2 separate regions of the Homo sapiens genome follow, and region 2 is linked to region 1. Evidence: fine-mapped expression QTL. A gene starts in region 1. The other region holds a variant in brackets. All regions are shown on one strand. Distances are from middle to middle.

Region 1 (15,754 bases):
CTAATTTTTTTTTTTTTTTTTTTTTAGTAGAGATGAGCCATGTTGGCCAGGCTGGTCTCGAACTCCTGACCTCAAGTGATCCATCCACCTTGGCCTCCTAAACTGCTGGGATTACAGGTGTGAGCCACCGTGCCTGGCCCCAAAGGAGCACTCCTGTGGGAGACCAATGGGTGCATGATATTGTTGTCATTTCTCGGTCTTCAAAAATGACGGACACTGCTGGTCGCTGTGGCTTCCTCCTGCTCGGTTGGTCACTCCTGCACATGTCTGCAGTAGTGGTGCTCCTGGGGACCCCCTCGCCACCCCACAAAACTGCTCACCACATGGCCAAACAGGTTTGTCTTTTTCCGTGTGATTTCTTCTTTTGCTAGAACATTTATAAAACTCCTTAGGAAGTTTCAGGAACGTTAAGGAAGTTAAGGAAAATTTATGAATGCTTTTCCAGAGGCTAAAAAGAATTTATTTCCTACTAGCTAGTCTAGAATTGTATTACTTATTTATGTAAGTTTTAACTTTATAATCTGTCTGGAGGTCATTTTAGTGTTAGATATAAAGTGTTAGCTAATTTCCTCCCCCCTCAAATGCCTGCCCCATTTCCCATTGTTGTGTAGTGCTTGTGTTATCATGGCTTGCATTTTTAGGTAGGATTGGTTCTTATACATAATCGCTCCTTTGTAGCCTATTCCAACCGTGTGTATCCCTGATCTCACTCCAGCATCACGCTATTAAATGACTGTTCCCTTAGACTATGTTTTATGGAAGACTTTATAGCATAGTAGTTTAGATTATGGGCTTTGAAGTCAAACTGGCAGAGATCCACATAAGACCTTTGCCTCTTAATAAATGTGTGACCTTGGGTGAGTTACCTCACAGTTCCTCATCTGTAAAATGGACTTCTGGGAGGTTGAAATGGTTTGGTTCTGTGCCCCTGCCCAAATCTCATGTCAAATTGTAATCCCTAAAGTTGGAGGTGAGGCCTGGTGAGAGGTGACAGGATCATTGTGGGGGGGGTTTCCCCTTTGGTGCTGTTCTCGTGATGGTGAGTGAGTTATTGTGAGATCTGGTGGTTTAAAATGTGTAGCACCTCCCCCTCTCTCTCTCTTCCCTTTGCTATGGCCATGTGAAGACGTGCCTGCTTTTCCTTCATCCTTCTGCCATGATTGTAAGTTTCCAGAGGCCCCTCCAGCCATGCTTCCTGTACAGCCTCCAGAAGCGTGAGCCAATTAAACCTCTTTCCTTTATAAATCACCCAGTCTCAGGCATTTCTTTATAGCAGTGCAAGAACAAACGAATACAGAGGCCTGTAGTATCTCCCTCACACATTCAGAACAAATTGAGAACTAGATATAGACATCAGATGGCTGATAATAAGGCTGATAAAACATCAGCCTTATTATTGAGTAGAGGTGGTTGCTGTCCACTGTCACAACTTGTATTTAGCATTGCACTGGAGATCCTAGCCAATGCAGTAAGACAGGAAAAGGAAATGAAAGGGATGATGATGGAAAAAAACAAGACAAAAAACAAAGCCTCAGTGGGCATCCTGACATTCACTCCTGCCTTAGATAGACTCAAGACCCCTAGTCATAGGTAATACCAGACCCCCTAGGTCTTCACCCATGCACACACTTTCTCAGATAAACCCTATCCCCAGAAAATTACTATGGAGCACAGCAGAAAATACTGAGAGAGGAGAAACAAGGATGGAAAGCAAGGACAGGAATGTTCCTTTAGCAAAAGTCCTTTCACATATGAGGTAGAGGTGGTGATGGATAGTCTCAGTGCAGTGAACAACCTATACCACTATATGGGGCCATTTAACTTGCCCTATAGACAGAAGAAGAAGGGGAGTGGTAAGAGCATTTTGGGCAAAGAATACAATGTGAGCAAGAGCACTAAGACAGTAAATTCAGGAAGTGAAAGGACACTGAAGGCTTGAGCTCTAGAGCAGTGATAATGAGGTTGAGGTGGAAAGACCTGATTTAAGAGCTATCAGGGTTAGAATGGGTAGGACTTGGCAGGTGATGAGGGTGAGGCAGGTGGATCACTTGAGGCCACGAGTTTGAGACCAGCTCACTACAACATGGTGAAACCCCATCTCTACTAAAAATACAAAAATTAGCCAGGTGTGGTGGCTTGCGCCTGTAATCCCAGCTACTCAGGAAGCTGAGGTAGGAGAATAGCTTGAACCCAGGAGGCAGAAGTTGCAGTGAGCCAAGTTTGCGCCACTGCACTCCAGCCAGGGCGACAGAGCGAGACTCCATCTCAAAAAACAAAACAAAACAAAGTTTTATTTTTATTTATCTAATTATACACACATGCACAGACACCTACGTATACAGACACACACACGTACACACACACGCACACAAATATATATATGTGCTGATGCACTGGGGCTTCCACTGCTCTTACTTGATGTGGGTGATATTATCATCATTATATATATATGAGGGGGGAGAGAGAGAGAGAGAGAGAGTGAGAGAGAGAGAGCGAGAGCGAGAGAGAGAGAGAGAGAGAGAGAGAGAATCTTGCTGTGTTGCCGAGACTGGTCTCAAGCTCCTGGCTTTAGGCAATCCTCCCACCTTGACCTCCCAAAATGCTGGTATTACAGTATTTATTTAATTTTTAGGTGTTTTTTTGTTTCTTGGGGGCTGTTTTTTTGGAGATAGGGTCTTGCTCTATTGCCCAGGGTGGAATGCAGTGGCTGTTCTTCACCAGGGCCATCATGGCTCACTACATCCTTAATCTCCTGGCTCAAGTAGTCTTCTCCCCTCAGCCTCCTGAATAGCTGGGACTACAGGCGTGTGCCACCACACCTGGCTATCCTACGCAATACGAGACTGGGTAGGGGGGGGCAGTCTAAAACAATATGGAGAGTACCTTTAGATCCGGATTTCGGGGCTCAGCCTTGCCATGGGAAGGAGGCATGGTGTGTAGCAGTGGTTACCAGACTTCTTTCAGTAGTTTAAAACAATTAAAAAAAAGATGAAAGACTGATATAGTGCTGTTCTCCTTTAATTTTGCCAAGGAAAGTCTTTTTTAAAAAACCTCTGTTGTTCCTGTCACTTAACACTAAAACGTGGAAAAACACATTCTCAACAACAGCAAAATAGCAGCCAGGCATGGTGGCACTTGCCTGTAGTCACAGCTACTTGTGAGCCTGAGGTGGGAGGATTGGTTGAGCCTAGGAGTTGGAGTCTGCAGTGAGCCATGATCCTACCACCGTGCCCCAGCCTGCTACTGCTAAACAGGTTAGCGGTGTCAGGAGGGTCTTCCCTCTTGCTGCTCGGTGCCTAGAACATTCTTGCCCAGATATTTGCATAGCAGCACAGCTGGCTCCCTCATCTTTTATTCAGGTCACCTCATGAGGCCGCTCCGGTCTATTTTAAAGCTGCAAGCTTCTTGGTTGTGTTTTTTGTTTTTTTTGTTTTTTTTTTTTTTTGAGACAGGGTCTTGCTCTGTCAACCAGGCTGGAGTGTAGTGGCATGATCACTGCTCACTGCAGCCTCAACCTGCCAGGCTCATGTGATCCTATCACCTCGGCCTCCAGAGTAGCTGGGATTACAGGTACAGGCCACCACCTGGCTAATTTTTGTATTTTTAGTAGAGGTGGCGTTTCACCATGTTGGCCAGGCTGGTCTCAAACTCCTGACCTCAGGTGATCAGCCTGCCTTGGCCTCCCAAAGTGCTGGGATTACAGGCGTGAGCCACCATGCCCGGCCAGTCCTCTCTAGCTTAACCTTCACAAAGAAACTTTGAAATGATATTCAGTTTTTGTTACTGCTTTCCTCAGGCCTTTTCTGTCTTTAGCACCAACCTCTTCTGCTCAGCCCATTGAACACTCATTCTGGGCCCAGGGGTCTAGGCTCATGCCTGTAATCCCAGCACTTTTGGAGGCCGGGGTGGGCAGATTGCTTGAGTCCAGGAGTTCGAGACCAGCCAGGGCGACATGGCAAAACCTTGTCTCTACAAAAAAACCCCAAAAACTAGCTGGGTGTGCTGGCACACACCTATCATCCCAGCTACTAGGGAGGTGGAGGCAGAAGGATCACTTGAGCCAGGGAGTTGGAGGCTGGAGTGCGCCGAGATTGCACCACTGTGCTCCAGCCTGGGCAACAGAGTGAGACTCTAACTCAAAAAAAAAAAAAAAAAAGAAACACTCATTCTGTTTCACAGAATGGTTTATAGAATGGTGTGTTGCCTGATTCTGTAATCACAAAAGTCAGTTAAGAGCTTTAAAGTAAATGTTATTCTGTCTTTTGGTAATAGCAATTACCACCATCCAAGGTACTACTGTAAATAATTATTGTTTATTCCCTCCTCCACCTCCTCAGCACAGGTACTTTGTGTTTTTTTGTTTTGTTTTGTTTTTTGAGGAGGAGTTTCACTCGTTGCCCAAGCTGGAGTGCAATGGCGCAATCTCAGCTCACTGCAACCTCCGCTTCCCGGGCTCAAGTGATTCTCCTGCCTCAGCCTCCCAAGTTGCTGGGATTGCAGGCATGTGCCACCATGCCTGGCTAATTTTGTATTTTTAGTAGAGACAGGGTTTCTCCATGTTGGTCAGGCTGGTCTTGAACTCCCGACCTCAGGTGATCTGCCCGCCTCGGCTTCCCAAAGTGCTAGGATTACAGGCGTGAGCCACTGCGCCTGGCCTTACTTTTGTTTTATACTCTGTTGTACCCTCAGCGTAGCACACATTAGGCACTTAGGAAGAATCTGAGAAACGAATCAGTTAATCCCTACTTTACCAATAATGAATAAAGACTGAGAAACTCGGGCCGGGCGCAGTAGCTCACACCTATAATCCTAGCACTTTGGGAAGCCAAGGTGGGCGGATCACTTGAGGTCAGGATTCAAAACCAGCCTGGCCAACATGGTGAAACCCTGTCTCGACTAAAAATACAAAAAAAAAAATATGAGCTGGGCGTGGTGGCGGGTGCCTGTAATTCCAGCTACTTGGGTGGCTGAGGTGGGAGAATCGCTTGAACCTAGGAGGCGGAGGTTGCAGTAAGCCGAGATCGCACGACTGAACTCCAGTGTGGGCGACAGAGTGAGAGTCTCAAAAAAAAAAAAAAAAAAAAAAAAAATAGACTGAAAAATTACGCAACCTGTCCAAGAACACTACAGCGACAATTAGCAAAGCTGGGATTTTAACCCAGGTCTATCTCACAGCCACAGCATAGTATTTTCTTTTTTTTCTTGCTGTGACTGCACGTTACGCCATACATGGCATTCAGGACGCAGAGGAATTAGTATTTACTGTTTTTAACATTCCTTACATGGGAATCACGTAAAGAATCAGGTAAACAGGATTCAATTTGTGACTCAACCATTAATACTTTGTGACACTGGCTAATTTATTTCACTTCTGGATGTCGGTTATGTTTTTTTTGAGACAGGATCTCGCTCTGCTGTCACCCGGCCTGGAGTTCAGTGGAGGGATCTCTGCACCGTCAACTTCCTGGGCTATCAAGCGATCCTCCCACCTCAGCCTCCCTGGTAGTTGGGACCACAGGTGCCCGCCATCATGTCCGGCTGATTTGTAAAATTTCTTTTGTAGAGATGGTGACCTTGCTCTGTGGCCCAGGCTGGTCTCGAACTCCTGGACTCAAGCGATCCTCCTGCCTGGGCCTCCTAAAGATTCAGCTGCTTTTGGATCAACCGATCGCCTTAAGACCTTTTAACTCGAACACCTGTCACATCCTAGGATCCGCGAAGGACTGAAACAGAGTTTCTGAAGCGTCCCTCGGCGCAGTAGCTCCGCTCCACCTCCCATTCGCGCTACCACCGCGGCCGCAGCCCCAGGAGTCGCCGCGGAGCCAGCGTCGCCCTCCAGCTGTTGCGCGTCGGAAGCCGGAAGCAGGGACTGAGCGACAGACTAGGAAACGCCGGTTTCTCCGGGGCTCCCCAGCGCCCCACCTTTACCCCGGAGGCCGCCCTCTTCCATTTGCTCTTGGGCGTCAGGGCGGTACCCCACTCCGCTCGACCCTTTGGATCCACTCGCACTTCCTCCCGTCCAGAGTCAAAGGCCCCGGAAGTGACGTTTACGCGCCGCGCGTAACGTGCGTTCGCTGGCGGTGCCGGGGGCGGGGCGAGCAGGAGGGTGGGTGTGAGGCGGGAGCTGGCCGCGGAGCCCAGACCTACCCGGGCGAAGCGGGCGAGCGGTGGTTTGGACGCCGGCGGAGACGCGGGCGAGGTACGGAGCGGACGGACTGGGGCTGAGAGCTGCTCGGCTCTCAGCTACAGGAGCGGGGCGGCGGGGCGTCTCGGGCTGGGGGTGGCAGGGCGGTCGGTCCGTGCCATCCGCGCGGCTGGGGCAGTTGCGCGTCGGTGCCTCCCGCTGTCCTTCGTCCCACATTCCGTCTCCGTCAGCGCCGCCTTCCCCGTTCCAGGCCGCCCTCGGCTCCCTTAATCCTCAGAGTGCGGCCTCTCCGTCCCAGACGCTAGTTGCCGGGATCTCCAGCGCCAGCCGAGCCCCGACGGCCTGACGCGGAGCATTTCCTGGCCGCCTCCCTCTCCGGCGGCTCCCCTCGCCCCGGCTCCCACCTTCCGTCCAGGCCGCTGGCTCCGAAGCAGCGTCTGTGGTCGCACGGGGCCCCTCCCACAACCTCCCCGGAAAGCGCTGGTATGGGACGCTCGGACCCAGACCACAGCCCCCGGCCGCGGCAGGGGCGCGGGGACTTGATCCCACGTCACCCTAGGGGGCAGAAGTGTCCCGGAGTTGGGAGGGGATTTGAAGCCTGTGGTCCTGACTTCCACCCCGTGGCTGAGGGCGAGGCTGCGGGGCCGGGGTTAGGAGCAGAAGTCCCTGCTTCCGAACCGTCTGGGAGGAGAGCCGAGGGATGCCCATCACGGCAGTTTAGGGAGAGAGAGGGAGGGACTCTGCCGCTTTGGAGGCTAGGTCATAGGCAGCTGGCGGTGTCTCAGCGCGGGTGACCAATCCTTGCGGTTGGGAAATGTGTCGTGGGCGCCCGTGGGCTCGTTTTGCCTTTGAGATTAGGTAGGAAATTTTCCCAGGACGAGTTTACCGGAGCACCTTGGGAGTTGGTTTTTGGCCTGGAGAGCTGCTTTCCCCCCTCTAAACCTAGAACTGCTTTGTTTTTATTTATTATTTTTTTCGACATGGGATCTCACAGTGTTGCCCAGGCAGGTGTGAAACTCCTGGCCTTAAGTGATCCTCCCGCCTCGGCCTCCCAGAGTGTTGGGATTATAGGCGTGAGCCATTGCGCGGCTTTAACTGCTGTTAAAGAGTGTGTTCCGGCCGGGTGCGGTGGCTCACGTCTGTAATCCCAGCATTTGGAAGGCCAAGGCAGGCGGATCATGACGTCAGGAGCTTGAGACCATCCTCCCTAACACGGTGAAACCCCGTCTCTACTACAAATAAAAAAAAAAAAGAAAAAGAAAATTTGCCGGGCATCGTGGCGGGCACCTGTAGTCCCAGCTACTCTGGAGGCTGAGGCAGGAGAATGGCATGAACCCGGGAGGCGGAGGTTGCAGTGAGCCGAAATCGTGCCACTGCACTCCAGCCTGGGCGACAGAGCTAGACTCTATCTCAAAAAAAAAACTAAGAGTCTGTTCCTTAAAATTGTTGTACCAAGAAACTTGCCAGAGATGCAAGAAAATGTGATTATATTGTTAATATTTAATGATAAATAACATTTTGCTTTTAAGAGTCACTGATTCATATCCGCAGGATTAAGAAATGTTCAGGATTTGAATTTTTAATGACCTTCCAAGCAGTCATGTTTCTGCTCTCTAGAAGTTAGCCAGTTGAGGAGAAGGGACAGTCAAGATACTTTCAAAACAGTGTGGTAAGGAATGTGAGCTAAGATGGAGCACCGAGGAAGGAGCCGGGCATTTAGGCCATGCTGTTGGGTGTGGAGCCTGGAAGGGATCAGGGAATACTTTCTGCATGTGTCTTGAAGAATGACTAACATTCAGACTAACAGGGTGGAGTGAGGGAGAGGGGGGAATCAAAGGAGAGGAGGCCAGTAACTACAAGGAGGTGCCTATTAATTTATTTATTGAGAGAGAGGGTCTCACTTTGTCACCCAGGCTGGAGTACAGTGACACGATCACGAGTCACTGAAGTCTCAACTGCCTGTGCTGAAGTGATCCTCCCACCTCAGCCTCCCGAGTAGCTAAGACTGCAGATGCGTGCCACCACACCCAGCTGATTTTTAAATATTTTGTAAAGATGTTGTCTTGCTGTGTTGCCCTGGCTGATCTCAAACTCCTGCACTCAAGCAATCTTCCTGCCTCAAGCGTCCCAAGTGCTGAAATTACAGGCATCAGCTACCGAGCCTGGAGGGTCGTTACTAAAGTGAAAAAGTGCAGGACAGAGATGTAGGAGCTCAGGCTTCCTCTGATGGTGACAGAACCAGGGGAAGTTTTTTAGCTGGGTCCTTGTGTGGTTAAAATGGGTCTCTCTGGCCAGGCGCGGTGGCTCACGCCTGTAATCCCAGCACTTTGGGAGGCCGAGGCGGGCGGATCACGAGGTCAGGAGTTTGAGACCAGCCTGAGCAACATGGTGAAACCCCATCTCTACTAAAAACACTAAAATTAGCTTGGTGTGATGGCGCCTGCCGTAATGCTAGCTACTCAGGAGGCTGAGGTAGGAGAATTGCTTGAACCTAGCAATTCTAGGAGGTTGTGGTGAGCCAAGATTGTACCAATGCACTCCAGCCTGGGCGACAGAGCGAGACCTCGTCTCAAAAAAAAGAAAAAAATTTAAAAAAAAAAAAAAGGCTCTCTCTCTCTCCCTGTCTCCCAGGCTGGAATGCAGTGGCAGGAACACAGCTCACTGTAGCCTCCACCACCCATGCTTAAGCTATCCTCTTGTCTCAGCCTCCCAAGTAACTGGGACCACAGGCCTGCCACCTACTAATTTAGCTTGCCTGGCTAAATTTTTTTTTCTTTTTTTGATACGGAATCTGGCTCTGTCGCCCAGGCTGGAGTGCAGTGGCGCGATCTCGGCTCACTGCAAGCTCCCCCTCCTGGGTTCACGCCATTCTCCTGCCTCAGCCTCCTGAATAGCTGGGACTACAGATGCCCGCCACCATGCCTGGCTAATTTTTTCTATTTTTAGTAGAGATGTGGTTTCACTGTGTCAGCCAGGATGGTCTCAATCTCCTGACCTCGTGATCCGCCCTCCTCGGCATTCCAAAGTGCTGGGATTACAGGTGTGAGCCACCACACTTGGGCTAAATTTTTTTGTAGAGATGGAATCCTTGTATGTTTCCCAGGGTGCTCTCCAACCCCTGGCCTCAAGTGATTCTCTAGCCTCGGCCTCCCAAAGTGTTGGGATTACAAACATGAGCCACTGCACCCGGCCCTAAAATGGAATTTTATGTAACTCTTACACACAGGCTGCTATGTAGCTGATAAGGATAAATGTTTTCAGTGTAGTGCTTGATTATTTGCTTTTTTCTTTTCTTTTCTTTTCTTTTTTTTTTTTTTAAGACGGAGTCTTGATCTGTGACTGGGCTGGAGTGCAGTGGCATGATCTTGGCCACTGCAACCTCTGCCTCCTGGATTCAAGCGATTTGTGTGCCTCAGCCTTCTGAGTAGCTGGGACTGACCATAGATAGGCGCGCGCCACCACGCCCAGCTAATTACTGCTATCTTGTATTTTAATTTTTTCTGCTTATTAGATGTTTGAAATGGTGGCTCACGCCTGTAATCCTCGCACTTTGGGAGGCCAAAGTGGGAGGATTGCTTGAGGTCAGGGGTTGGAGACCAGCCTGGGCAAAATAGCAAGACTGCATCTCTACAAAAAAAAAAAAAAGATAGCCGGGCGCAGTGGCTCACGCCTGTAATCCCAGTACTTTGGGAGGCTGAGGCAGGCGGATCACGAGGTCAGGAGATCAAGACCATCCTGGCTAACACGGTGAAACCCTGTCTCTACTAAAAATACAAAAAATTAGCTGGGCATGGTGGCAGGCGCCTGTAGTCCCAGCTACTCGGGAGGCTGAGGCAGGAGAATGGCGTGAACCTGGGAGGTGGAACTTGCAGTGAGCCGAGATGGCGCCACTGCACTCCAGCCTGGGCGACAGAGCCAGACTCCGTCTCAAAAAAAAAAAAAAAAAAAAGATGCTTGACGTGAATGTATACTCATTTCCTAGTTGTTTCTTTCTATAAGGATGTCTGACCTGGCTAATTTGTAAACAGGAATTCTGCATTCATTTCTCTCTTTGCTTTCTCAACCCCAATTGAGCACACAAGTGTTTAATGAGTACTTAACTGATTTGATAAGAATAACTCATTGATTTCTTTGATTTTTTGTTGCTGGTTTTCAGTGAAAAAAATGTTATCAGCCGCACACGGTGGCTCACGCCTGTAATCCCAGCACTTTGGGAAGCTGAGGCGGGTGGATCATGAGGTCACGAGATCCAGACCATCCTGGCTAACATGGTAAAACCCCATCTCTAATAAAAATACAAAAAATTAGCCGGGCATGGTTGCAGGCGCCTGTAGTCTCAGTTACTCAGGAGGCTGAGGCAGGAGAATGGCGTGAACCCGGGAGGCGGAGCTTGCAGTGAGCCGAGATTGTGCCACTGCACTCCAGCCTGAGCGACAGAGCGAGACTCCATCTCAAAAAAAAAAAAAATGATATCAGTACTTACTCATTGTGATGTCTACATATAGAACTAAAATTCTGTTTACTTATGTGAGTCTTTGGCTAGAGACATAGAATTTCAGTCTTGACTGTGTGAGCTTAATTTCTGGCATGTGGGTTTTTATTGGCTGCAGAGGAAACATCTCTAGCAGAGATGACCTATCCCTCAAATGTAGGAAATACCTGTGTAAACCTAACACCTGTGACTCAGAATAGAAATGGTACCAAGTGAGTGGCTTCTTAGCCCATCAGTAAAGTTATCACACCATAGGCTGGGTGCGGTGGCTCACACCTGTAATCCCAACACTTTGGGAGGCTGAGGTGGGCAGATCACTTAAGGCCAGGAGTTTGAGACCAGCCTGGATCAAGATGGCAAAACTCCGTCTCTACTAAAATGCAAAAAACTTAGCCAGGCATGGTGATGTGCGCCTGTGATCTCAGCTACTCGGGAGTCTGAGGCACAAGAATCTCTTGATCCCGGGAGGCGGAAATTGCAATGAGCCGAGATTGTGCCACTGCACTCCAGCTTGGGCAACAGAGTGAGACTCTATCTCAAAAAAAAAAAAAAAAAAGTGATCACACTAAAACCAAGAGTTTCAGGCTGGTGCAGTGGCTCATGCCTATAATACCAGTGCTTTGGGAGGCCAAAGTGGGAGAATCGCTTGAGCCTAGGAGTTCCAGGCTGCAGTGAGCTGTGATCAAGCCACTGCACTACAGCCTGAGTGACAGAGTGATACCCTGTCTCTATAAAAAGAAGTTTCATAGTACAGGCCAAACATCTTGAAAATCTTATTAAATGTACACTTCTTTCATAGAGCACTGTAGAAACATCATGTGTGTTGTTTCACATGGCTGAAGTGAGTTTAAATGATCTGGACTATTGTTACAATATGTAAACATGTGAAATAACAGTTATCCCACTTAATATTATTTAACTTATGTTTATCTCTTTGATGTTTGGATAAAGCTCCTAAAATGCTTTAGGAAAACATTATACTTTTATGGTGCTGTTTTGAAGTTTCCTGTGAAATTCCTGTTTTCAATGAAGTTACTGTCAGTGGGATAGGAAGTGTGATTTTTTTTTTTTACTTTTCTTTTTTTCTTTTTGAGACGGAGTCTTGCTCTGTTGCCCAGGCTGGAGTGCAGTGGCGCGATCTTGGCTCACTGCAACCTCTGCTTCCTGGGTTCAAGGATTCTTCTGCCTCAGCCTCCCGAGTAGTTAACCACCATACCCAGCTAATTTTTTTTGTATTTTTAGTAGAGACGGGGTTTCACCATATTGGCCAGGCTGATCTCGAACTCCTGACCTCGTGATCCACCCGCCTCGGCCTCCCAAAGTGCTGCGATTACAGGCGTGAGCCACCGTGCCCGGCAGGAAGTGCAATTTTTATTTATAATATAACCTTTTTTTTTTTTTTTTTTTTTTGAGAACAGAGTCTTGCTCTGTCACCCAGGCTGGAGTGTGGTGGCACGATCTCTACTCACTGCAACTTCCACCTCCCCGGTTCAAGCGATTCTTGTGCCTCAGCCACCTGAGTAGCTGGGAATATGGGCTCCTGCCACCACGTCCGGCTAATTTTTTTTTTTGCTGGAGTGAGACTGAGTTTCAGCCTTGTTGCCCAGGCTGGAGTGCAATAGTGCGATCTTGGCTTACTACAACCTCTGCCTCCTGGGTTCAAGTGATTCTCCTGCCTCAGCTTCCCAAGTAGCTGGTGTTAACAGGCACGCGCCACCATGCTGAGCTAATTTTTTTATTTTTAGTAGAGACGGGGTTTCACCATGTTGGCCAGGCTGGTCTCGAATTTCTGACCTCAGGTGATCCACCTGCCTTGGCCTCCCAAAGTGCTGGGATTACAGGTGTGAGCTACCGTGCCCGGCCCTAGTGGAACATTTTAATTTGTTTCTGGTAGCATAGCTCTCTTGGCAATGGTCATTAAGAGGGCCAAATACCATTATTATGATCAATTAATTAAATGTGGTTAAAAGTCAGAAGTTAGAATAAGTATGTGTTCATGAATGCGTAAAATATTACACACTGAGAGAGTATTAAGCTTTTTAATTTTCCCCCAGTAACAGTGAGCAGATTGCTGAAATCTCTGAAGCAGGAATGTAACAAGAGTTTTGAGGGCTCTAAATTCTCTGCTGTTTCACCCTAAGGAATGGTTTGGCAGCATCCTCTATGCTAGGCACAGAACAACTCAGGAGGAATTGTACAAAGACCTTATGAACCACATTTGAAGCTAGTCTGTTCAGTTCCCATTCAAAATAAATACACAACTGTAATTGAATTTATGGTGATTTGGTCTGTATGCTAAAATTAAAAATCGCTTTTGGGGGATTTTCACATAGGGGTATATTTATAATTTTCTGTGTGCTTTGCAGTTAAAAATACATAGTGAAAGTTTTATTTTTGTAGTTCCTCTGTTGTACAGAGGAAATTTAAATTCTTAAAATTAGAATTTTCTAATTTTAAGCACTTTCATTTTTCCTTTAGAAGGTACTTTGGAGCACATAAAAGAAAATGCCATTAGAAATTGAACATAGAAAATGTTTATTAATCGAAGAAAATGTTTTCTTATTGTGCTATAATTTTTTTCAGTGGAACATATCATTTACTTATTCCATTATTCCACATCTTGTTCCAGAAAGGGTTTGTAATGACTTACAAAGATACGTGCGACATACTGTTGGTAACATAACAGATAAGTGGGTGAGGAATGCAGGACTGAGGGAAAATTAAGATGGAAACAGGAATGAGCTGTGTACACAGAGCACTTGGACTGAAGTCTTAAGTGCAGAGGGCCACAAATTTGGCTTTGCTTTTGAGTAGCCAATTAAGAGAGAAATATAATCAGTTACATGGGTCAGTGACCATACGACAAAAGAGATCATTTCTGCTTTGGATTCCCAAAGACTTTCCAGCATGCGTTTCAAAGGGCTGGGTGTCGAGTTTTACTTTGTGTGTTAGTAAAACTCCTTATTGGCTTTTTGTGTAAGACGGTGACATAACATCAAAACATTCCGTAAAAGCATTTCTCTTGCCTGCAAAATAATGTGATCCGAGTACTTAGATCTCTAGGCTGATTTAAGGATCTGTTTTAGATTATCTAGATGAGTAGGTGGATTGCACATTCTTCACCTACCTTCCATACTTTCTCAGTGGATCTTTTGTAATGAATTTATCAGCAGTGGGGTTTGAGTTTGTGCTTCCTCACAAGTTCCTTGAATGCATCTGTTTTCTGTTGTTGGTGAATCACGGAACCATATGTTTTAACAGGCATGGTTTATCGTGGGGGTATCACGATGGAACAGTCTGACAAGGGCACATATTTGTTTGTTTGTTTTTTGAGGAAAATCACTTTATTCTAATTAACTCAACAAAGAATAAAATCATAACGGCTAGTTCAAGGGTGCCACACAAACATCTACCCAGCCATCTTAATGAAATTCTACACAGTAAGAATTTCCTTTTCCATTGCAGTCCTGAAGCAGGGACGCTATGAGAGAGGAGAGGTTTACCTGATGATTACACTTTATACCTTCACTATCAATTGTATTTTTGTGCTAAATCACTTGGTTATGAGAGCTGATTTTCCATTTCTCCAATTCGAACTTTCTGATTAGACCAATCTGTTTGCAAGTCTGCACTGTTTCAGCACCTTATTGAAACCCTCACAGAGTTTTCTGTCACCCTGGTTCTGGGCACTCTCCAAAAACTGTTTTATGTCATAAGAGCAAGGCCGCTGCTGCTTTGCTGGCTGGGTTCCCTGAGGCTCTTGGTAGGTGATATCAGGCCTTCAGGCTCACCGTGACTTCCTCCACTGAAGCCCTGGTGGTGGCATGACCCAGTGTATGTCTGACAGGGGCACATATTTGAATGAAAGCCACCTCACCTCCATACAGAGATGGGCTGAGGGAATACCAAATATGAAGATGGGAGCAGATCCAGATCTACTCGTCTCAGATGAAATGTCCAGTAAGTTGTATTGCCTGTATTTTGCTCCAGCTGAACAGTTGCACTTTCAAGTAATAATAGTTCAAATTTATCAAATGCTAGCAGGAGCCATGCATTGTGTTAATGGAGAGAGACCATCCTTATTCACTCTTACTCAGTAAACAGTGGGTGAAACTGCCCTTGCCTAAATATAGTTATGTAATGCTGTGTTTCCTTAATTGTATATCCATAAAGCTTTTGACATTGTTTTCTAAATGTGTTCCTCAAAAAGGAGTTGGGCTAGTGACCAAAGTTTTGAATAGAATATTGTAAGAAAGCAAATACAAAGTGTAAAAACAAAAAACAGAACTTTGCGAGGTGTTGTTCACCTGTAGTCCCAACTACTTGGGAGGCTGAGGCAGGAGGATTGCCGGAGGTCAGGTATTAGAGGCTGCAGTGCACTATGATTGTGTCTGTAAATAGCCACTACACTCTAGCCTGGGCAACAAAGCAAGACTCCATCTCTAAAAACAAACAAACAGGCCAGGCACGGTGGCTCACACCTGTAATCTCAGCACTTTGGGAGGCCAAGGCGGGCGGATCACGAGGTCAGGAGATAGAGACCATCCTGGCTAACACAGTTAAACCCCGTCTCTACTAAAAATATTTTAAAAAATTAGCTGGGTGTGATGGTGGGCGCCTGTAGTCCCAGCTACTCGGGAGGCTGAAGCAGGAGAATCGCTGGAACCTGGGAGGCGGAGCTTGCAGTGAGCCGAGATCGCACCACTGCACTCCAGCGTGGGCGACAGAGCGAGACTCCATCTCAAAAACAAACAAACAAAACTACAGAATAATGAAATAGAATGTCCAAAATTTATCATAACTGGTGTCTCACGAGATAATACGTTTGGGTCCTGTTTAGCAAGTTGGATTATATTTTTATTTGTGTAAATTTATTGGCCGTTGCAGTTGGGGTTGTATTGAGAATGTAGATTTTGTCTGATGAGAGTGTAGATTTTATTTGTAGTGAGTGCATGTGGATTTTTATTTGTCTAGGGTTTTAAAAGTTGTATAGTCATGAATGGACACTTTTTAATACCATCTATGAGAAATTCAATGGCAAAGTGTTTTCATACCCATATGCTAACTGCTGATGCTTTTTATAAAACATTGTTAAGGTGTTACTTGCCCCAGGAAAT
Region 2 (15,754 bases), 290 kb before region 1:
ACTATTATTAAAAAAATTTTTTTCTGTAAAGTGGTATAAATATTACTTGAAGGTAAGTAAGTTAAAGATGTATTCTGTAAAGCCCAGAACAACCGGTAATAAAAACCAAACAAAACAAAACAGAACAAAGAGGTGTAGCTAACAAGCTGATAGTGGAGGTAAAGGTGTGGTCATAAAGAAGGCAAGAAAAGAGGAGAAAAGGAACTAAGACAAGATGAGATAAACACAAAGAGCAAGATGACAGGGGTAAAACTTCCCTTATCAAAAATCACATTAATTACAAATGCTATAAACAGTCTGATTAAATGTCAGAGATTATCGTATTAGATTAAAAAACAAGACCTCACTTCATGTTGTCTGTAAGAAATTTACTTTAAATATAAAGATACAAATATGTTAAAAACTAATGAAAGGAAGAGGATACTCTGAAACAATGAAATAGAGCTTAAGTGGTTATACCAATGTTAGACAAAGTAAACTTAAGAACATGGACCATATTATCAAGAACACAGAGAGGTATCTCATCATAAAAAAGGGGTTAATTCTTCAAGAAAACACAGCAATCCTAAATTTGTATATACTAATAACACTGTTTCAAAACACATAAAACAAAATTTGATAGAACTGAAAGGAGAAACAAATTCACAATGATATTTGGAGATTTCAATAATCCTCGCTTAGTAATTGACAGAGAGATATTTTTAAAAAGTCAGTAAAGACAGAAAACTTGAATGATGTTATTAACCAACTTGACCTACCTGACATTGACAGAACACTCAACCCAATAAAAACATAATACATATTCCATCTGACAAAATAATAATGGTAGTATAAACTTACATATAGGTAATGTCTATTATGCACTAGGTACTTTTACAATGCTATTTTGTATAATCTTCACAAGTCTATCAGGTAGTACACTTATGATATTTACAAATGAGGAAGCTGAGGCTTGAATATGTTAAGTAACTTGAATAATGTTGCAGTCACTTATAAAGACTGGAATTTGAACCCAGGTCTGTGCACTTAAATCCAAACCCTGAGCTGTTGACTATGCTATAACTACACCTCAGTAAGCCAGAGAGGACTGAAGACTCTTTAGAATAACACCAATCCCTCTGACTTTGGAGGTCTGTACACCAGTCAAAGACAGGAAAACCCTACTCATTTCCTTTATTGCTTTGCTTACAACATGCTTCCCTCCCACACATACTTTTCCAAAGGACACTTTTGCTTAAAAAAGAAAAAAAATCTCCTTTTAAAATGTAAATGAAGATTAATTCTATTAGCTAGTTATGACCATACAAGTTACTAAAATCAACACTTTGTTGTTTTTCTCTAAGCTTCCTAAAAATCAACCCCTATTAAGAGGCCACAAGTTTGGATTAGAGAGGGGAAAGTGAGAGACAGTTCAGGTGTTTGGTACACAGGGAGGAGGTTAGTTATGTTTGAACAGCCAATAGGGATTCAGTGTGTAAGGTGAAAGAAGTGAAGAAGAAGGAAATATGGAAAAGAACAACCTCACCCACATTACAGTTCATAGTTTTGGCTAGGGCTCAAATGGCAAGTGCTTGCTCTTCAACTTAAAGTCACCTTGCGTTTTTGTTTGTTTGTTTGTTTGTTTTTTTAATCAGGGTCTCGCTCTGTCACCCAGGCTGGAATACAGTGGCACGATCACAGCTCACTGCAGCCTCAACCTCCCAGGCTCAAATGATCCTCCGACCTCAGCCTCCAGAGTAGATGGGGCTACAGGCACTAGCCCGGCTAATTATTATTATTTTTAAGAGATGGAATCTCACTATGTTACCCAGGCTGGTCTTGAACTCTTGGGATCAAGCGATCCTCCTGCCTCAGTCTCCAAAATGCTGGAATTACAAGCATGAGCCACTGGACCAAGCTGCACCTTATGTTTTTAATACAGAAACAAAGCTTGTATTTCAGGAATAGCAAGTAGACCATGATTATCAAGCCTTCCATTGCCCAATCTCTCTCTTTTTTTTTTTTTTTTTTGAGGAGTCTCACACTCTGCAGCCCAGGCGGGAGTACACCGGCGCATTCTCGGCTCACTGCAACCTCTGCCTTCCAGGTTCAAGTGATACTCCTGCCTCAGCCTCCTAAGTAGTAGGGATTACAGGCATGGGCCACCATGCCTGGCCAATTTTTGTATTTTCAATAGAGACAGGGTTTTGCCATGTTGGCCAGGCTGGTCTCCAACTCCTGGACTCAAGTGATCTGCCTGTCTCGGCCTCCCAAAGTGTTGGGATTACGGGCGTGAGCCTCTGAACCTGGCCTGTCTCCATGCTTCTTCCACAGCCTGCAGAACTGTGAGCCAAATGAACCTCTTTCCTTTATAAGTAACCCAGCCTCAGGTATTCTTCTATAGCAATGCAAAGGGATTAAGCCATTGTTTTATGTACCTTACAGGATAGCTACCAAATTCAGGAAAATTTACATTGATAAAATACTTTTACTCAATTGAAAATCCATATTCCAAGTTTCTCAATTGTTCACAATGAGCAGTTCACAATTTTCCCAACCTTTGTTTCTCTCAGCATGACACTTCTGAAGAACACAGGCCAGGTATCTTGTTGAATGCCATTTAGATTGGGTGTCCTCATGACTGGATTCAGGTTGTTAAAAATTTTCGGCTTAGATATTTCATAAATGATGTTGTGTTCTCAAAGTGTCATGTCTGGAAGCACACATGACATCTATCCTTGCCTCCTACATCCCCATTTTATAGTTACCATTTCTCTATTTATAATTAATAAATAATCTGGCTGGGCATGGTGGTTCACACCTGTAATCCCAGCACTTTGAGGCTACAGTGGTGGGATCACTTGAGGCCAGGAGTTCAAGACCAGCCTGGGCAACACAGCGAGACCCACCTCCCGTCTCCACAAAAAAAGGAAAAAAAGAAAAATAAACACATAAATAATTCATTGGCAGTGAATTTGAGATCATGTTCGTAACTTGTTTCCTGGGAAACTCCCTCCCCTCATCCAAGATTTAGCACCCAGATAAACTTTACCTGAATCAATTTTTGCTACTAACATGACTATAACCTCTCATTTGTGTATTTCTCTATTTTTTTTTATTTTTTTTTTATTTTTGAGATGGAGTCTTGCTCGTTGCCCCGGCTGGAGTGCAATGGCATGATCTCGGCTCAGCACAACCTCCGCCTCCCGGATTGAAACGAGTCTCCTGCCTCAGACTCCCAGTAGCTGGGATTGCAGGCATCTGCCACCACGCCTGGCTAATTTTGTATTTTTTTAGTAAAGACGGGTTTCTCCACGTTGGTCAGGCTGGTCTCGAACTCCCAAGCAAAGGTGATCCACCCACCTCGGCCTCCCAAAGTACTGGGATTACAGGCGTGAGCCCCCGTGCCAGCTGTATTTCTCTATTTTACTAGTTAAATTAACACACGGATTATTATTTTGTTCAGTTATACTTCATTTATTGTCCTTATTTATTGATTTCTTCACTTTATTTTTTTTTTAAGACGGAGTCTCGCTTGTTGCCCAGGCTGGAGTGCAGTGGCACGATCTCAGCTCACTGCAATCTCCACCTCCTGGGTTCAAGCCATTCTCCTGACTCTGCCTCCCAAGTAGCTGGGATTACAGGCACACACCTCCACACCTGACTAATTTGGTATTTTTAGTAGAGATGGGGTTGTGCCAAAAAAAAAAAAAAAAAGACAGAGATGCGGTTGCACCATGTTGGCCAGGCTGGTCTCGAACTCCCGACCTTAGGTGATCTGCCTAACTTGGCCTCCCAAAGTGCTGGGATGACAGGTGTGAGCCACCGTGCCCGGCCTTATTGTCCTTGTTTATTTTGACACTCAAATTATCCCAGACTTGGCCAGTGGAAACCCCTCCAAGCTGGCTTCTAGATCTTCTGAAATGTAACCAAAATATTGAAGGGGCCTTTTTTTCCCTGCCCCAGCCCCAGAATCAGTCATTTCTCTAAGAAGCCCTGGCTCACTTTAATGAATAATACTATTTAGAATCTAAGGTCTGGGTGGTATTGGTATTTTAACTCTAAAAAAGAAAAGATACGCTTTGGAGGATCACTGTCTTTAGATCTGTTTGTGAAAGAGGTACACAAGATTCTACTTGGGATGACAAGATTATAGGAGTTCTGAAAGAAAAGGGCACTTTGGAATGTATAAGCAAGTGATCTCAGCTTGGCCAACCACTATGACTTCCTCTATACAGCTCACTCACCATGACTGTGGAGACTAAAACACTTTAACTGAGTCTTTACAGTCAAGACATTCCATTTACTTTCTCTGAAAGTGAATCCAACTCTAAAAAAATGTGAAAATATTCTTCAAATTCCTTAGAAGGTTATTTGTATTTTGTCTGCTACCAAGCTGCTGTGTATGGCGAAAAGCTTTCCTTTATGTTACTAACAGAAACAAGCAAAATACCAAGAGCAAGGGCATCACGGACTAAAGAAGATCAAGAATACAAAATCCAAAAAGTCTGTTTCTAGTCTAGACCCAATACATTAAAACTGCACTTAGGCTAACCTTATCCAAACACGATGGCCAAACAAGTAATCAGTGTGAAATGCAAAATTTACCTGGCTAACTTATATTAAGTGATCTGTGAAACAAAGACATAATGGAATCTTCTCTTCTAACATAAATTTTCAAATACTTTAAGATCTTTATCCCCAAAGCTTTCTACTGACAAAAAGCAACTAAAGAACAAAAAATAGAAAGTACAAATCTACCATTCAAAAAGATGCGGGGTGGGGAGAAACAAGAACAAAGGTAAAAACCATTCTGCATACACATTTTTAAAATAAAAGTCACTTGGATTGTTTCTTTTTTTAACTAATTAATTTTTTCAAAGATGGTGTCTCACTCTGCTGCCTAGGCTGGAATACAGTGGCACAATCACAGCTCACTGCAGCCACTAACTCCTGGGCTCATGTAATCCTCCTACCTTAGTCTTCCAAGTAGCTGGGATTATAGGTAGGTACAAGCCACTGCACCCAACTCGAGAATGGTTTCTTTTTAAAGTACAGACTCTGCACTAAATTGTAAATCTTCTTTCCATAGTATCATGCACACTGTACAGAGGCTTTTGGGACACAGGTTTTTAAAACCACCAAGGAGAGTCAGCGAATATAAATGACAATTATGTACTTAAGTAACAGAAACTTGATTATATATATATATTTACTATTTATTATATACATTAAATAACCTGGGTTTCTGAAGTATACACATTGAATAAAGGAATATAATGGAAAAATATTGACCCAGGAGTTAGGAAACCTGAGTTCTCATGCACAAACTCATCGTTCAACCTTGGGTAAATTAGTTAACCTTTATGGACTTTCATATTGTCATCTGCAAAATGAGGCTATTAGAGCTGATAATTCGATGATTTTTTTTACTATTTCATCTGTTATCATACTTACCATTTCACTACATATCATCAAGAAACAGACTTTAAGCTAAATAGGAATGAAGGAACTTAATAATAAATGGCCTTGAGCTCCCTGCAAGATTATTCTATCAGAAGAATAACTTGCATTTTAAAAAAGCTAACACTTACTGGAGATCTACTGTGTGTGTCGGGCACTGTGCTAAGCTCTTTACATATGTCAACTAACTGAATCCTCATCAAATGTCTCTGATAGGTATTACTGTCCCTCAGTGTGGACAAGACTTGGTTAGTCCGCCCAGGGTCACAAAGCTGGTAAATGACAAAGCTAGGACTCAAATCAAGAGTGACTCCAAAGTCACCTTACTAACCACCTGAAAATTTCACCTCCTAATAAATAAATCATAAGCTGAATACATTCTTATTTAATCTCTGGCAGGTGCTAATTTTTTTCCCCTTTTTAGTAGAGACAAAATAGCTAAAACTGGCAGCCAACCAAGAAACAACTTCAAATTAATCATGTAATCATGCCACTGTGCCCAGGGAATTTTTGTATTTTTTGTAGACATGGGATTTCACCATGTTGCCCAGGCTGGTCTCAAACTCCCGAGCTCAGGTGATCCATCCATCGTGTCCTCCCAAAGTGCTGAGATTACCAGGCATGAGCCACTGCACCTGGTATCAATGTCTTAAAGAGAACTGTGTTTTTGGTAAGCAATATTTCCTTTTATTTCCTTATAATAAAACAAAAGGAAACAGCAAAAGTCACAAAACCTAGAAGACTGGCAAGGGTCTTAAGGGTAACAGTGTCTTATTATTCATTCCCCTGCCTCCAGGGGAGACCTCATTACAATTACCCCAGGGTAGGAACTGGGGAGCAAGTGATGGGGCTCCCAGAGAACAGGTCTTCTGACAGCATCAGTGTTGGTTCCCAGTCTCCCTCATCATTTCACATTAACTGTATAACTGAGTACCAACATAAATTTTCAGAGACCGAGGCCTAACCACAGAGATTCTTTCTTGCTTCACGTTGGGCCATTCAACTGGCTTGTCTGCTCAATTATAGAACAACTGTGACTTAAGTGACAATCTTCTTGCTGGTCATATGGCATTTTAAGAAGCCAGGTGAATATGATCACCTACATACAAATCCATGCACTGGAAAATAGCTACTATGGCTCACTTTCATCCCTCCAGGAGCCCAATGTGGGCCTTTTCCTATATGTTCTCAAGACACAAGCTGTCTCTCAAATAAGCTCTCGGGCAGAAAATCTCTCTCTCAGATGACTTTCAAGCCTAGAAATCACCATTTCTGACAAGCTATGAACAGTGAGGGTATTACCACAGAACAAACCAGGATCCACAAATAAAGGCACAAAAACCAAAACATCCAAAGAGATAGTCATTTGGATGGGGATGAATTTCATAAACAAAACTATCTATTTCAATTCTCTTTATTCCTCCTACAGAGTAAACAAATTTCTCTAAAACACAATGTCTTTCAACTA[AAG/A]AGAGTATTGGTTTCATATATTGTCTGACCCTCAAGCCCAATTTCAGTGTCAAATCTGAGCTGATGATCTCAAAAAGTTGACAGAAATTACAAAGCTGAGCCTATGAGCATTGGGGATCTCCTCTGTGTCTCACTCAGGCAGAGAAGAAAAAAAAGAGTATCACAACATTACCCTTCTTTGATCCGACCCTGGAAGACGTACTGAAGATTTCTTCACTGTGGTAATCTTGCGGGTCTTCTCGTTGGTTTTCTTTCCTTCAAACTTGGAGAATGTGAGGGATTGGGCCCCTTGGCTGCTCTGACTGCTGGCAAAGGCCTCTTCTTCCTCCCGCTGGAGTCTGCAATTCAAGAGAGGATTAGAATGATCTAGATATTCTCCAAGATTTCTCTGTATCTGAAGGTTATTACTCCATTAATTCAGGAGGATCTAAAGATTTTAGAACTAGAGACTAAATACGCCAAATCAGTCTGAGGTCTCACATAGCTACAGGATGGACGGCTCTTCATGCACTACAGATTTCAAATGGCATCTTCTCATGCTCATTCAGCAACTGGTCTAGGGTTACATGAAAGAAATCAAGTCTAGTCCTTTTCCCCAACAAGCTCAGTGAAATAAATAAAGTCTAGTCCTTTTCCCTAACAAGCTCAAGCTTGGAACAAACAAAAAGGTAAGTAAACAACTGCTATATAATGGGACAGCTGCTACATCAGAGAGTAAAAATTGAGTGCTATGAGAACACAGGAAAGAACAACACAATCTGCTGGAGGAGTCTGATGAGGCTTTACAACGGTGATGTTTGGGGTGAGTCTTAAAGGACAAATAGGATCCTTTTTTGTTTCTGTTTTTTTTTGTTTGTTTGTTTTTTGAGACAGAGTGTCACTCCATCACCCAGCCTGGAGTGTAATGGCACGATCTCAGCTCACTACAACCTCTGCCTCCCAAGTTCAAGCAATTCTCATCCCTCAGCCTCCCAAGTTATTGAGACTACAGGCACACACCACCACGCCTGACTGATAAGGATGATTAGGATTCTAAGTGAAAGGACATTCCAGGAAGAAGGAACTACAAATGTGCAAGCCTGTGGTTTGCTTCACAATAAACTGAATGTAGCCAGAGCACTGGGCGTGTGATGAACTGTGATGCTGGATACACAGGAAGGCACCAGAGGGTAGGGAATCTTGCCTGCTAAGCCCATTGCTAAGCCTATTCTGGATTTCATCATGTGGTGGGGAAGCAAGAAAAACTGCAAGTCCAAAAAGTTATTGTTGTCAGATCTGTGCTTTAGAAAGATCATGCAGGTAGCTATGTGAACAACTTGAAGGATAGAGAAACTAGAGACACGGACAGGAATTAAGCGTATATTATAAAGGTTCAAGTAAAAGAAAATAAATACCTGGAAAAGAAGAGGAGCAAAGATAAAATGCAAAAGACTTTTCTAAGTTGGAACAAATGGAACTTGGTCAAATTGTAGGTGCCAAGGGAGGTTAAAGAGAAATCAAGAATGAAACCAAGGTTTTTTAGCTAACTTGGTAAACAATGATGCCATTAATTGACTCAGGAGAAGGGTTAGGAGGAAAATGTTCAGAATGCGGAGAATAATAAATAAAAGCAATAAATTTGGGTTTGGATTAGCTGCATGTGAACCATCTGTAATAAATCCCAAAAACAGGCCGGGTGCGGTGGCTCACGCCTGTAATCCCAGCACACTGGGAGGCCAAGGCAGCCGAATCACTTGAGCTCAGGAGTTTGAGACCAGCCTGGGAAACATGGTGAAACCCTGTCTCTTCATAAAATACAAAAATTAGCTGGGCGTGGTGGCATGCTCCTGTAGTCCTAGCTACTTGGGAGGCTGAAGCAGGAGGATCACTTGAGCCTAGGAAGCAGAGGATGCAGTGAGTTGAGATTGCACCACTGTACTCCAGCCGGGGTGACAGAGCAAGACCCTGTCTCAAAACAAAACAAAAAACTCAAGCACTATCTATAAGACAGTGGTTCTCCAAGCGTGGTTCCCCAGACAGCAGCAGCACCATCACCAGGCAACTTGTTAGAAATGCAAATTCTCTAGTCTTACTCCCAAACTACTAAAATCAGAGACTCTGTGGGTAAGGTCCAGCAATCACTGCTTTCACAAGCTTTCCAAGAGATTTAGCAGGGTCACAATTAAAAGCAGTAAGAAATAGAAACAAAAATCACAGGGGAGGTGCTAAGTCTGAGTATGGAATCGGGACACTTCTTTCTCTGGGACGGACAAGAAGTTAATATAAAGGTATTAGTACATTTTTATGTGGCGAAGGGAGTAAGCTGAGGCAGTTCGTGCCTAGTGGCCTCTACTCTGTTTTTGAAACAGGATCTGCTACTGACAACATCAGGCATGCAGTGGAAACCCTGAGGAGATCATTCATGTTCTTGGCTAAAATTTTCTCTTTGATGACCACAGTCACTGAAAGCAATGTGTAATTTCTAATTCTCTGAGCTCACCACAGGTGCCAGCAAAGTAGTCACTCAACAAATATTGGCTGACTGGATGAAAAAACAAAAAAACTAGCAAGAAGAGTTGGCAGAATTCCATTTGCCTTTCTTCTGTTGAAGCAGTTTTAGAATTTCTAAAATGCTCTGGCAAAGAATTAACATTATTCATGGCATTTTATTAGTTCCTATGCTCAGTAGCCATCCCATCATTTAATTTTTTTTTTTTTGAGACAGAGTCTCACCCTGTCGCCCAGGCTGGAGTGCAGTGGCACAGTCTCAGCTCACTGCAACCTCCGATACCTGGGTGCAAGCAATTCTCCTGCCTCAGCCTCCCAAGTAGCTGAGATAACAAGTGCACACCACCACGCCTGGCTAACTTTTTAAATATTTTTAGTAGAGATGGGGTTTCACCATATTGGTCAGGCTGGTCTCAAACTCCTGACCTCAGGTGATCCTCCCACCTCAGCCTCCCAAAGTGCTAGGATTACAGGCATGAGCCACTGCGCCTGGCCCATTATTTAATTTTTAACATCATTATATTTCCAGATAATACAAACTGCCTTTGAGTAACCTAATTTTTAAGGAAAAGTTAAATTTCTATAATGCAAGGACTATGTATACAAGTCAACAGATTTCTACTACTGTGTTTTATCACTGAGCTAGATGCCACGCTGAATATATTAAAAGAATGAGGGAAATAATGCTTGATGAGTGCCATTTGCAAGCCCTGCACTGGGTACATCATATTTATTAGCTCATTTAATCTTCACCAGGAAATATGCCTATCTCCATTCTTCCATTCCAAGGAGCTTATTGTCTACATTTGAGAACCAAGATTAACATAACCCAAAGAATATAATCAGAAGTTAAGACATACAAAAAATGAAGAAAATACTCAAAGCTGTTCATTAAAGGTTGACTGAGAAGAAGAGGGGAAAACATCCTTTTCCTTAATTTTAAACTGACTTGCTGATAGGTCAAAGCAGAAATTTAAAAAAATGTATTTGGATGGTGACAGAAGTATGTATCCAGTCACGCCACTGTTCAACCGCCCCTAGTTAAGTCCTTTTACCACTCCGCCAGCTCCCAGTCCTCCTGAATCTCCTTCTGCCTAGCTTTGTGGTACTCTTCCCTCCAGCACTTGGAGCAGAAACCCTGCCAGTCAGGGTTGCCGTAGTAACCACATCCTTTCTTGCACAGGAGGTCCGACTGATGCACATGAATTCCTCAGCGTTCAGACTTAAGGCTCATCTTCTTACTGCTAACCAATGAACAAATGACAAAGTGCTGTTGAAAAGGAATTATCATTCTACTAACTAAAGTCTTAGCAATTATGAAGAAAAAGTGAGTGCTTCCATTATCTTCAGGCTGTAAGAGAGGGAAGAAGGGAATGAAGGAGGGAGGGAATGAGGGAGGGAAAGAGAGGAGGAAGGAAGAAGGAAAAAGGAAAAGTTAACTATGGTAAATTCCTGAAACAGTCATATTAAAGACTTATTCCCTGCCGAAAATACACAGAACCCATTAAGAAAGGGCTAACATTGGATTAAATACCTAAATGTAAAGGCTGGAAACTAGAAAACTTAGGGGAAAAGCTTCCCAACACTGGATTTTGCAATGACTTCTAGGATATGACACCAAAAGCACAGGCAACAAAAGCAAAATCAGACAAATATATTAATTACATCAAAATTTAAAATGTCTGCACAACACAGGAACCAACTGACAGAGTAAAAAGGAACAACACACAGAATGAGAGAACATATCTGCAAACCACATATATAATAAGGGGTTAATATCCAGAATATAAAGGAACTCCTACAAGCCAATAACAAAAAAAATAATAATAATAATCTGGTTAACAAATGGGAAAAGGACTTCAATAGACAATTCTCCAAAGATATACCAACAGCCAACAAACATGTGAAAAAATGCTCAACATCACTAATCATCACGGAAATGCAAATCAAAACCACAATGAGATATCACTTCATACCCATTAGGATGGCTACTGTAAAAGAAAACAAACCCACGATGGGCATAGTGGCTCATGCCACTTTGGGAGGCCAAGGTGGGAGGATCACTTGAGGCTAGGAGTTCAGGACCAGCCTGGGCAACACAGCAAGACCCCATCTTTACAAAAAAATACAAAAACTAGTGGGGTGTGATGGTGTATGCCTGTAGTCCCAGCTACTCGGGAGGCTGACAGGAGGATCGCCTCTCCAGGAGATGGAGGCTGCAGTGAGCTATGATCACATCACTGCACCCCAGCCTGGGTGACAGAGCAAGGCCTTGTCCAGAAAGAAGAGAAGAGAAAAAAATTGAAGTAACATCATAATTTCCAAAGTCAGTTTTCTTTTCCACTGTGTAATATTTAAACTCATTTGTTCATAGTCTCACAGCTGTATGGTAAATCGCTATGTAACAATTTCCTTTCAAACTGAAACCACATGGTCCTCATTCTTCTCCACAATAACAAACTGCCAAAGAAGCACAGTAAAAAAGCAGCACTCTACAGCATTCATTCAAGAGACTCACATGTGCAGATAAAATTAGGCCCTATATCTTGGAGGTCTCATTAATTTAACTCAAACATTTACTAAGTGCCAACTGTGTGCAGAGAATTAAGCTAGATGGCACTGGTGATGCAACGGATAGAACACGTCCTTGCCCTCATGAAGCTCATAACCAAAAGTACAGCCAGACTGAAAAACGCGGAAAAAGGGAAAGTGTTAGGAAACTGTTGGGGAGTAACACACATACAAATTCTGACCTAGTGAGTATAGAGAGACCACTTGGGGATGCTGGTGATAGACCTTAAAGAGCCTTGTGTTGAAAGGGTCTTGGAAACATGACAGAAAGAGGAAGGATATTCTGGACAGGAAGAATGCCTTTCACAAAAAGCTCAGAAGCAGGAAGGCAAATGTAAAATATGAATGATGTAGTATAGACAGAAGGTAAACTAAAGAAGTTAGGTGGGAAGTCAAATCATCATGGATTTTTAAAACTCGAAGCTACCAAGTGCGGATGGAGAGTCACCAGCTATCAAACCTGACAGTATACAGTGTGCACTACTTTTGAGGATTCTGAAAAGCAAAATGGAGATGTGGGGAAGACCAGAATTGAAAGTATCACCCAGCCATCTAAGAGATTACCACTTTCTCCCATTCAATACCACCAGCCAACCTGGAAATGGGCCCCACAGCACAGAGAAAGCTCTTCTAGTTGGGGCTTCAGGCATGTGAAAGGGAAATCCTAACAGCCAGAGAGAATATGGGGATCCCCCCACTTACCATCTCCTCCTTCTCTTGAGCCACAGTGCCCAGCAATCGTGTGCTTTGTCTGCAGCTATGGCTGAAATGAGAGTGCAGGAGCCAAACTCTGAGGCAGGAGAACTATCAATTTTTCCCAATCTCTATCCTTGGTCTCAAATGTGCAGGCAGTGGTGGAAAGACATGGCAGAGTGGAGTAACTAAATCCACAGTTTTCTGGACAAAAGAAAGAAAATATGAGCCCTTTGAGAACAAAAAGTGTGGGAAAAATTGCTGAGGAGAACTCAAGAAAGCAATTTCTAGGCTTACCCTTAGGCTGCATATGCATGGATCTGACGCTATTCCGTACCAAAGGTTTCCAAATTGGAACTAACGGAGAGACCACTATGCAGGTCTCAGATCAGCACATACATGAAACAGATGGAAACAGCACTACAAAACTCTAAACAATATACTGACATTAAAGCCACAGCCCACAGAACCTGTATACCAAACTTGGCAACACAACAAAACACTTTTGCTCTGGGAATAACTGTTTAGAAAATGAAAAGACAAGCTACAGAATGGGAGAAAATAATTGCAAATCACCTATTTGGCAAAGAACTTACATACCCAGAATATATAAAGAACTCTCAAAACTCAGTTGTCAGAAAACAAACCACCCAATTTAAAAATGAGCAAAAAATCTCAACAGACACTTTACTAAAGAAGATATACATACTGGTGTCCCACATTTCCGTGAGAAGCCTTTGCTACATACTGTCCAGTCAAAGATGTTTGTATATTGAACATCCTTACAAGAGAAAGATGATAGCTCCTTCCACAGCAGAAGACAATTTGTTAACTGTCCAGTACAGTAAATATAATGTCTCCCTTCATATCAAAGGTTTGAGACATTTGTTTGCCACCCCTTATGAGATCTGAGTTCCCTGAGCTTGGATTTCCTACTTGTGTCGTTGCCCACAGGGAATTTACAGGGCAAAGGTAGTCCACGTGGACATGAAGCTGGTTCTGCTGATGTCCTGTGACCTGTGTCCTCCTCTTTTGCCTCCAACCCAGGAGTTTCATGTCTTGGGCCAATATCCATGAAACCATGGAGACTAACTTGCTACATTTAAGTAGGGAGAACTCAAAATTCAGGTCCCTTGCAGTTATTGACATGGTGGCAAATAAGCATATGAATACTTGTTCAACATTGTTCAGTCATTAGAGAAATGCAAATTAAAACCACCATGAAATATCACTCAAATCTATTAGAATGGCTAAAATAGAAAATACTGACACAGCCTGGGCAACATGGCAAAACCCTGTTTCTACCAAAAAAAATACAAAAAAAATTAGGGAGCAATGGTGGTGCATGGTTGTGGTCGCGGCTACTCAGTAGTCTGAGGTGGGAGCATCACTTGAGCCTGGGAGGTGGAAGTTGCAGCAAGCCAAGATCACACCACTGCCCTCCAGCCTGGGAGACAGAGTGAGACCCCACCTCAGAAAAAAAATAAATACTGACAATACCAAGCGGTAGCAGGGATGCAGAGCAACTAAAACCCTCATACCTTCCTAGTGGAATGCAAAATAGTACAGACACTAGAGAAAACACTTTTATGGTTTCATAAAAATGTATACATACAATGACCATCCAACCATGCAATCCCTCTCCTGGGTATTTCCTCTAAAGAAATAAAAACTGCTATTTACTCAAAATTCGGTACTTAAACAGTTATAGTAGCAATATTTGTGATGACAAAAAAATGACAACTAAAATATCCTTCAATGGGTGAATGAATAAACAAACTATGGTGCCTCCATACAACAGAATGCTACTCAGGAAAACAACAACAACAACAGGTATTAGTACACCCAACAACTTCGATGAATCTCAGAGGCTTTATGCTGATAGAAGCCAGAATCTTAGTTCCTTCTGGCTGCAGTAACAAAATACCATAAACTGAGTAGGTTATAAAAAACAGAAATTTATTTCTCACAGTTCAGGAAGCTGGCAAGTTCAAGATCAAGAAGTCAACAGATGTTGGTGTCTGGTGGTTCACTGAAGGTACCTTCTCCCTGTGTCCTCACATGGCTAGGCTCTCTGCCGTCTCTTACAGGTGCACTAATCCCAATCATGAGGGCTCCACTTTCATGAACTAATCACCTCCCAAAGGCTCCACCTCCTAGTAGCATCACCTTGTGGTTTAGAATCTCAACATATGAATTTGGGGGACACACAAAGATTCAGACCATAGCAGTCATCTTAAAAGTTTACATACTGTATGATTCCATTTAGGAACTAGGGGTAGGAAAGAATGTGACTATAAAGGATTAGCATAAGAAAGTTTTTTGGGGTGATGAAACTGTTCTGTATTCTGATTGTGGAGGTGTTTACATAAATCTAATAAAATTAAAAAATTCGCAGAACATTATACTCCTCCCAAATCAATTTTACTCTATGATTAAAAAAAAAAAAAAAAAAAAAAACCTCGGCCAGGCATGGTGGCTCATGCCTATAATCCCAGCACTTTGGGAGGCCGAGGCAGGTGGATCACATGAGGGCAGGAGTTCAAGACCAGCCTGGCCAACATGGCAAAACCCCATCTAGTCTATTAAACATACAAAAATTAGCTGGGCATGGTGGCAGACATCTGTAATCTCAGCTACTCGGGAAGCTGAGACATGAGAATCGCATGAACCTGGGAGATGGAGGTTGCAGTGAGCCAAGATCATGCCATTGTGCTCCAGCCTGGGCAACAGAGGGAGACGCCATCTCAAAAAAAAAAAAAAAAAGAAGAAGAAACTTGAGAGGCAATTTCTAGGTTGGATTAGGGAGAAGTACAGAACAGGAGACACGGATACTGACCAAGAGACAACTACAATTAGAGGACTTGAGGTAACACAGTGGGTAGCCAGGCGTGGTGGCGCTTGCCTGTAATCCCAGGTACTCAAGAGGCTGAGGCACGAGAATCGCTTGGACCTGGGAGGCAGAGGCAGAGGCTGCAGTAAGCCGAGATCACACCACTGCACTCCAGCCTGGGCAACAGAGTGAAATCCTGTCTCAAAAATAAATAAATAAATAAGAGGTAACACAATGGGAAGGGAAAGATGACGGGTG

Evidence for each region. PIP is the estimated chance that this variant, and not a neighbour inherited with it, causes the effect.
Region 2: its variant is fine-mapped to the expression of RABGEF1 in whole blood (TOPMed, PIP above 0.99). The same link has a PIP of 0.9 or more in T cells.

The regions. Positions count from the first base shown.
Region 1 is chr7:66,734,594-66,750,347 of GRCh38, forward strand. RABGEF1 (RAB guanine nucleotide exchange factor 1) reads left to right here and starts at 6,140. Exons shown (of 9, transcript NM_014504.3): 1 at 6,140-6,199. RefSeq lists enhancers at 5,754-5,803, 5,817-6,483 and silencers at 5,934-6,203, 6,224-6,363.
Region 2 is chr7:66,442,987-66,458,740 of GRCh38, forward strand. It overlaps the pseudogene RABGEF1P2. Among named protein-coding and RNA genes, the nearest start is that of LINC03011, 43 kb to the right of the region's middle. The variant AAG/A (reference allele first, on the strand shown) is at 6,911.